Homo sapiens: one gene and its partner. The protein of the gene in region 1 interacts with the protein of each later gene in a pairwise test. Each region holds a gene or a part of one and is shown on either strand. Other genes may lie near its edges.

Region 1 (3,917 bases):
TGCCTGTAATCCTGGCACTTTGGAAGGTCGAGGTGGGAGGATTGCTTGAGCCCAAAAGTTCAAGACCAGCCTGGGCAACATGATGAAACATCATCTCCACAAAACATACAAATATCAGCTCTGTTATATATGAAATAAACAGAGTTTTCCAAAGATCTTTTATAAGATGGGAGAAAGGAGATGAAATAGAAGAGAGATTGACTTGGTCCTTCAGGATTGGAATCTGATAGATGGGACACTAGAGGAAGTTTAATGTAATCTTTTTGGCTATCTAGATCTAGTTTTTAGGCCCTGGCTAGAAGCCAGTTAGTTCCTCTTCTAGAATGGCCAATTAAGTCTACAATGCCGGCCACAGTGAGCTTGTGGTATTTAGCTTGCCCTAATCCTATCCCCATATCCTCAGCTTCAAGGTAGCCTTGAAAAGCAACCACCTTTTAACAACAGTAACAGTGAATATCTGCACCCTAGCAGAATATCTGCACTTGAGGAGGTAGAAATGGCTCTGAAAATGGCAGAAATGGCTCTGAAACACCCAAAAGCCTCCATCCCCACAGAATGTTCACTACTAAGCCTGCTTTGCAGCCTGCTGAATAGGTCTATTCTCATAGTATTTCTCTATTTGGCTTGACTTTATTTATGTGAACACTCCTACCCATAGGGCACTTGTCAAAAAACAATCAGCAGCAATTGTTTAACACTAGAGTGTTTAGGGGAGTGACAGTGTGTGTCTGCGTGATAGATGGAAGTAATAAGAGGGCACAGGGGAAAGGGGCCATACGCATAAGATGATGGAACAGAGAGCCTGGAGGGTGGGGTATAGAGAGTGTAGGGGAAGGGAGAAGGCAGACAGGTAAAAGGAAAAAGAATGTTAAGTGTTGTTCAGCCTCAAGACTGACATGATGAAAGTACCTTTATTGTGGTTTTTGTAAATTAGAATGCATGCTTTATTATTAAAAAAAACACAATTGAAAATGTTAAGGACCTTTTCCTCCTTGCTTCTTATAAGAAACCATCATAAGACATAACTTGTAATAATTCTGTAGAAATATACATATATAAAGATATATGTATATATATATTTTAAAATAGTATGTTTTTATTGCAAAATATTCATTAGTGTCATCATATCATAGCCAGATCTACAACCCCAGAGTAATTCCCATGGTTATGTTACATGGCAAAAAGGACTCTGCATTGTAATTAAGTTTATTAATCAGCTGACTTTAGCATTGGGAGATTATTCTGGATTGCCCAAGCACTTAAGAATAGGAGAAACCGGAGAGATGCAGCAGCAATAGTCAGTGGTTTCAAATATGAAAGGGATTTCACATACTATTGTTGGCTTTAAAGATAGGAAGTCGTGGGGGCAAGGAAACTCTCTAAAGGAAATTAATCTGGCAACAACCTAAATAATTCTAGAAAAGGATTCTTTTCCAGAGTCAAGAACAGAGCCAGGTGGTTCTTCTCTTCTAAAGACATTTCCATGGGCCAGTTCCACCGCAAGCTTCTCAGAGAGAATATGTTCTGCCGTACGGACACCGAACGTCCCCTAAGATGGCCGCCCCCATGATGCTCTCCCCTAAGGGCTCTGGCTCCGTTACCTGCAACGCACCGCTCGCTTATTTTTTGTTCTAGTCTCTCTTGCTTCAGTTTTTATACGGCTTCTAAAACGCTTCGCATTTACAATAGTGACTGAGGTGCCCAGAGGTGACTTTAATTTTCCATTGAGCTGAGACGTCACAGCCATCATAACCGCTAAGAAGGGATGCCGCGCCTTTGTGGTAATAATGGGTTCTGGCCTTTGAGAAGTTTGCGCCGTTCACTGTCCCCTGCGAGGAGAAGACTAACTTATTTCTGTTCCGTGTCTGTTCAGAGGACTTTACCCCCACGCCGTGTCTGCCTGTGTGAACTCAAGCCTCTGATAAGCTCTCCATTTTCTGCCAGGGCTGAGGTGTCTGGAAATCGGACAGTTTAAGAGGCCTCCGTCCACCGCGTCTCCCGGCCGCTGTGCCTTCTGTACGTCACGTACTCAAAGATGGCCGCCCCCAGAGCGGCGAGGCGACGCCGGCGCGGACGCGTCTCCTCCTGAGGAAAAGCCGGAAGGCCGCATTCCGCTCTCCATGGAAACGCGGCTGACCGTCTCTGGAGGTTTAGAGGGGGAGGGAGTTGGGCGAGGGGCCCAGAAGTGGAAGAAGTTTAGGGAAGTAAGTTCAGCTTTTAAGAGGTCGCGGCGATTCCAAGGAGAGTCAGGTCAGTGTGTGGGTCAGGGCGTGGAAACGTGGTGGGAGGGAGCTTTCTGAGGGCGTCTGCGTTGTTGGTGGCGCTATATGGTGGAGGTAGCGCGGGGGTTGGGGGAGGCGGGGGCGGGTGTTTCCTTTTGGAGGGGAGCTGGTAGGAGTCCCTGGTGGGTGTCTGTGATAGGATATCTTTGGGGTCCCTCATGGAGGCTCTGGTGGTCAGTGATTAAAGGCCTGAATAGATCAACGACCAAGAGTACTGAGGTCAGGGATTGTGGTCCTCGCGGGTCACTCCCCAGTGGGGCTCAGTGATTGAGAATCGATGGGGTGGCTTTTGTCAACGAATGTGACTTCTGTTTCACATTCTGGATTAATCTGAGGCTTAGTGATTGATGAATCATTAAGGGAATCCAGTGTACGTGTGTGTCTATTCCAGGTTTTCCTATTTTATCTGGCGGGGTGGTGGTCTTTTGTCTAGAGACAAGTGAAAGCCGAAGTCTTTTCACAAGAGCCCTGGCTGGTTTTGTGTGTGTGTGTGTGTGTGTGTGTGTGTGTGTGTGTGTGTGTGTGTGTGTGTGTTGAGCTCAAACTTTGGCTGGAACAGACTTGATGAACGTTAACATTTCCTAAAAGTTTCAGGTCCGAGTACCTCCTCCACAATGAGTTTTCTAATCCTCTGGCTTTCCACAACAACCCATGCTCTTGAACCTGCAGAAAATGAAAGTTTTTTGGGGGTGAAGGGGGGCGGATGAATAGGCTTTCTATTTAACATTATGTTTTTAAATTACTGCGCACAAATTAACAAGAGCCTATTTTTATCCTTCCTCTTGCAAATGTACTGCATATTTTTATGGGTGTTTCAGGTTTTGTATGTTAGTATATAAAGGCGGCTATTTTCCCAGTATTTATATTTTTGAATTGTTTTCTAAATTTGTATTTATAACTCGTATTCCTTTTCTCTGTCTCCCTCTTTTTTTCTATGTGTTTCTTGTTCTTCATATTGAAGTGTGTATATAAACATTTTTTTTTTTTTTTTGAGATGGAGTCTTGCTTTTGTCGCCCAGGCTTGAGTGCAATGGCTGGGCTCACTGCAAACTTCGCCTCCTGCGTTCAAGCCATTCTCCTGCCTCAGTCTCCGAGTAGCTGGGATTACAGGTGCCTGCCACCATGCCTGGCTAATTTTTTCTATTTTTAGTAGAGACAGTGTTTCACCATGTTGACAAGGCTGGTCTCGAACTCCTGACCTCAGGTGATCTGCCCATCTCGGCCTCCCAAAGTGCTGGGATTACAGGTGTAAGCCATCATGCCTGGCCGTATATAAACACTTTTAAATATATATAAAGACTTTTAAAGAGGTGTGAGAGTAACATTGTATAAAGGAAAAAATGTAGTTTCTCACCATCCATATGGCCTGATTTAAAAAACTGATATGAGAATTACCTACTGCTTAGGCATGATGCTATGTGGATTCTCCTTTGTGACCTCCCCTTTCATCTTCATGTTACTTCCACACTTCACCGAAGAAAGGCATTTGGCCTACATTGAGGGTCTTGTGTTTCCTTGGTTTGAGAGAACCAAATAAAGAGACAAATATTCAGGGCCACGTGTTAAGGTGAATGTACCCCTGAAAGTTGTTTTGCTCTTCAGTCCACAGGTCCTGGCTACCCTGGGAAGAGACAA
Region 2 (3,917 bases), on another chromosome or scaffold:
CATCTTTCCTTTCCCATTCCCATGCACCTGCTTTCTGATCCTTGGCCCCCACCAAGTGCCTGACCCCACCCTTTTCTCTTAAGACTGACACAAGCAATTTTTCCCAGGTTTCACTTTCTCCCCTATCCCCCATTGAATCAGGTACACTCACGCCAGCACCCTCAATTCCCGCAGCCCTTGCCACTGGGTAGATGTGATCACCTTTGCCTCTCTTTTTGCTTCCAGGGTCCCAGCTGCTATTAGAGAGAACCACGGGGCCCCATGAGCAGCCCTCACCTGAGACCAGCTTTCAGCATCAAGCCATCACCTGGACCTCAGTATAGCTTGCTCAGCCAGCCCTCCACTCCTCCCACAGTTCTTTTTTCCATTTCCCACAGTGGATAGTCCAAATCCTCACCTCTCATCTCACCTCACCCCTCACCTAACCCTTAAAATCCCACTCCAGGCACACACACTCTCAGCAGGTCATTTCATTCCAAATGTCAAGAAATAGAAGCCAGTAGACACGAAGCCCCTCAACTTTCCTTCCCTCCACAACTCACCTCATCTAGATCCTCACCATTTTTCTCCTTTTCTGCCTGTCTCAGAAGGAACTATATGCCTTTAGGAAGCTAACCCCACATCTTGATTTTGTCCCCGGCTGTCTCTGCTTGTTCATTCATTTAAGACCTCCATCTCTACCTGGTGCCTTTAATTTTCCCCTTGACCTTATGGCCGCTCTCAAGTACAGCTGCCATCTCTCTCTTCATTATTCCTATTCCGACTTCCTCCCTATCCTCTCTTCAGGCTTCTGCCGTCTGGTGTCCACCTTTAATACTGGAAGATAAATCCCGACTTTCAAGCATGGCCTGCAAGAACTCCCAGGGCCAAGTGCCGCTTACTTGGTGCCCTCATCTCCTACCAACACTCCTTCCACACAGACTCCTCGTCACGCACTGTAGTTGAACCAGCCTGCTCCCCTCCATTCCCAAAACATCCCCTGCATCCACACCTTGCCTTTGCCCCTCTGGCTAAAACGCCCTCCTCATTTCTCCACCTACTGGAATTCCATCTGCTCTTCAAGGCCCAGCTCAGTTATCACCAATCATTCCCTGCTCATTCTTCTTGCGCTTTCTGTCTCAAACTGCTACAGCTACTATAGTATTGATTCTTGCACTTTGAGTTTTAGGTGATTTTACCCCATGATTTGAAAGGAAAACTTACAAACAACACTAATTTATAAAAATAGGTAACAGTTGTGCTATATTTCATGGCAAGCACCGTACTAAGTAATTTATATGCATTATATATTTTCTAATCATCAAAACAGTGTCCTGAAGTGGCATTACTATAGTCCCAATTTACTAAAGAAACTGGAGCTTGATTAATTAATTGGCCTAAAATCACACATAATAAGTGGTAGAGTTTTAGTGAACCTATGTCTATGAGCCCCTACTATTTGCTACGCACTTTGCTAGTTATCTTAAAAATCAAATAGTAGCCCTAGATCATTTATGGGACTCCATTCTTGGTAGAATTATGCCATCTCTGAGAGAAACAAGAATGAATATTTTTTCTGTGACTCTCAAGTGCCTAAAACAGTGCTTGGCAATGCCTACGAGTTGCACAATAAATGTTTGTTAAAATGTCATACTCTAGAGTACAATTTTTAAAATTTAATCATAGTAACTTTTTTTCATTTTAAGCACACAGGTTCTTAGCCCTACACTAACACCTAGCATCACATTAAGTGACGCTGACTTTTTAAAAAATGTTTAACAGGGCTGGGTGTGTTGGCTCACGCCTGTAATCCCAACACTTTGGGAGGCTGAGGCAGGTGGATCTCCTAAGGTCAGGAGTTGGAGACCAGCCTGGCCAACATGGTGAAACCCTATCTCTACTGAAAATACAAAACTTAGCTGAGTGTGGTGGTGTGCACCTGTAGTTCCAGCTACTCAGGAGGCTGAAGCATGAGAATTGCTTGAAACCGGGAGGCAGAGGTTGCAATGATCTGAGATGGCACCATTGCACTCCAGCCTGGGCAACAAAGCGAGACTCTGTCTCAAAAGAAAAAATAAAATAAAATGTTTAGCAGGTAATGCACGCACCTGAACAAAATTCAAGTGGTTAAAGGGGGTGTACAGTAAAAAAGAAGTGTCCTTCCCACTCCTATGCCCTAATCACCAAGCTGCAACCAGAGTTAGAAATATTCCTTCAAAGATAGTCTGTACATACACATGCATATTATCTTATGTACATAGCACATACATACAATTTTTAAATGCGCTGATGGCCTGCTTTACCAATTCTTCAGCACCTTGCTTTTTTAATTTAATAATTTATCATGGAGATTGTTTCAAATGGGTACTTACAAGTGAGGGTTATATCATTTTTTTTCCCTTTTAGAGACAGGGTGTTGCTCTGTCACCCAGGCTAGAGTACAGTGGTGCGATCACAGCTCACTGTAACCTCAAATTCCTGGGCTTAAGCATTCCTCCTTAGTGCCTTAGCTAGCAATGCACTAAGCACATACAGAGGATGCTCTGCTGTTATCTCTTCAATATGTGACTCTCTAACCATACCCATTCTTGATGGTTTAAAATCTTGTTGGGTTATTGAATTAAAGGCAAAAGTTAATATGTTATATCAATAAGTAACTTTAAAAATCTTGTTGCATTGTCTAAAACATGCTGTTTTGCTTTAGAGCACAGATAGCTATAAACAATATATTGAAATTCATAAAAATACATGATTGTTGAAATAATTATGTAATTTGATTCTGAGTATGTAAATTATTACTTGAATTCAATCAAACCATCTGTTTTAAATAATAATTGTTTTCCTCATTCGGCATGGCAAAAGTGTTCCCCAAATGTTCATGATTAACCAGTTGAATTGAAAACTAATCTTAAAGTTATATTTCCTTGAGTTACATAATTAAAATAACTAAATTACTGTTTTCAGATACACTAAAAATCTGAAAAACTACTCAAAGTAGTATACCTGAATTGTAAAAGAAACAAAAAGATAATTATAAAAAATGATTCATACTTTTTAAAAACAATACCAGTTTTTATATAAAATGCATTTTTAGCAGGCATTTTAAGTAATAAACAACACACAAAAAAATTAAACCAAATCAACTGGGTATAAGAGGAACTTCTCCAGAGCCCTAATCGGGGATAAAGGGTTGGTCAGTTGGTGGTACTCTAGGGACATGATGGCTTTAGATGATGGGGAACATAATGATAAATTAGAATTTTTAAATCAATTTTCTTATTAGCCCATACACTTCCCCTTGCACTGTAAACATAAATGCCACTTCAGGCCAGGTGCAGTGGCTTACACCTATAATCCCAGCACTTTGGGAGGCCAAGGGGGGGTGGATCACCTGAGGTCAGGAGTTCGAGACCAGCCATGGCCAACATGGTGAAACCCCATCTCTACTAAAAATACAAAAATTATCTGGGCGTGGTGGTATGCACCTGTAATTCCAACTACTTGGAAGCTGAGGGATGAGAATCACTTGAACCCAGAAGGCAGTGGTTGCAGTGAGCCAAGATTGCACCACTGCACTTCAGCCTGGGCAACAAGAGCAAAACTCTGTCTCAAAAAAAAAAGAAAGGAAAGAAAAGAAATGCTACTTGAAATATGAGGGTAATATTAAGTATCAACACTCCTAGTTACAAGGAGATGGACACCTAGAGATGGAGTATGAGGTATTCTCACTCAGAGCCCCGTGTAGCCAGGGATGGAGTTCACTGGTGAGCAGACTGACCAGCGTGTAATCTGTGACTACGAAACCAATCAAATGGTAAGTTATCATTGCAAAATTCAAACTTTCACTTTGTACTTTGACTTTGTCATTTGGTGAAGGAATCAACACCAAGCAAAAGCAGGACACACTGATGACTGACCTCTTGCCTTGATTCTGCACT

What was found.
Region 2: the proteins of ZNF432 (region 1) and DCDC2 interact in binary tests that used the Homo sapiens proteins (3 or more experiments, as listed by UniProt).

The regions. Positions count from the first base shown.
Region 1 is NC_000019.10:52,047,028-52,050,944, reverse strand, and holds the start of ZNF432 (zinc finger protein 432), read left to right. Parts: upstream 1-2,106; 5' UTR 2,107-2,250; intron 2,251-2,304; exon of another isoform or gene 2,305-2,336; intron 2,337-2,383; exon of another isoform or gene 2,384-2,404; intron 2,405-3,884; 5' UTR 3,885-3,917. UniProt on the Homo sapiens protein: Homologous recombination repressor that functions as a poly(ADP-ribose) (PAR) reader regulating DNA damage response and PARP inhibition. Once recruited to DNA lesions via DNA-, in a PAR-dependent mechanism, stimulates PARP1 activity.
Region 2 is NC_000006.12:24,302,440-24,306,356, forward strand, and holds part of DCDC2 (doublecortin domain-containing protein 2), read right to left. Parts: intron 1-3,917. UniProt on the Homo sapiens protein: Protein that plays a role in the inhibition of canonical Wnt signaling pathway. May be involved in neuronal migration during development of the cerebral neocortex. Involved in the control of ciliogenesis and ciliary length.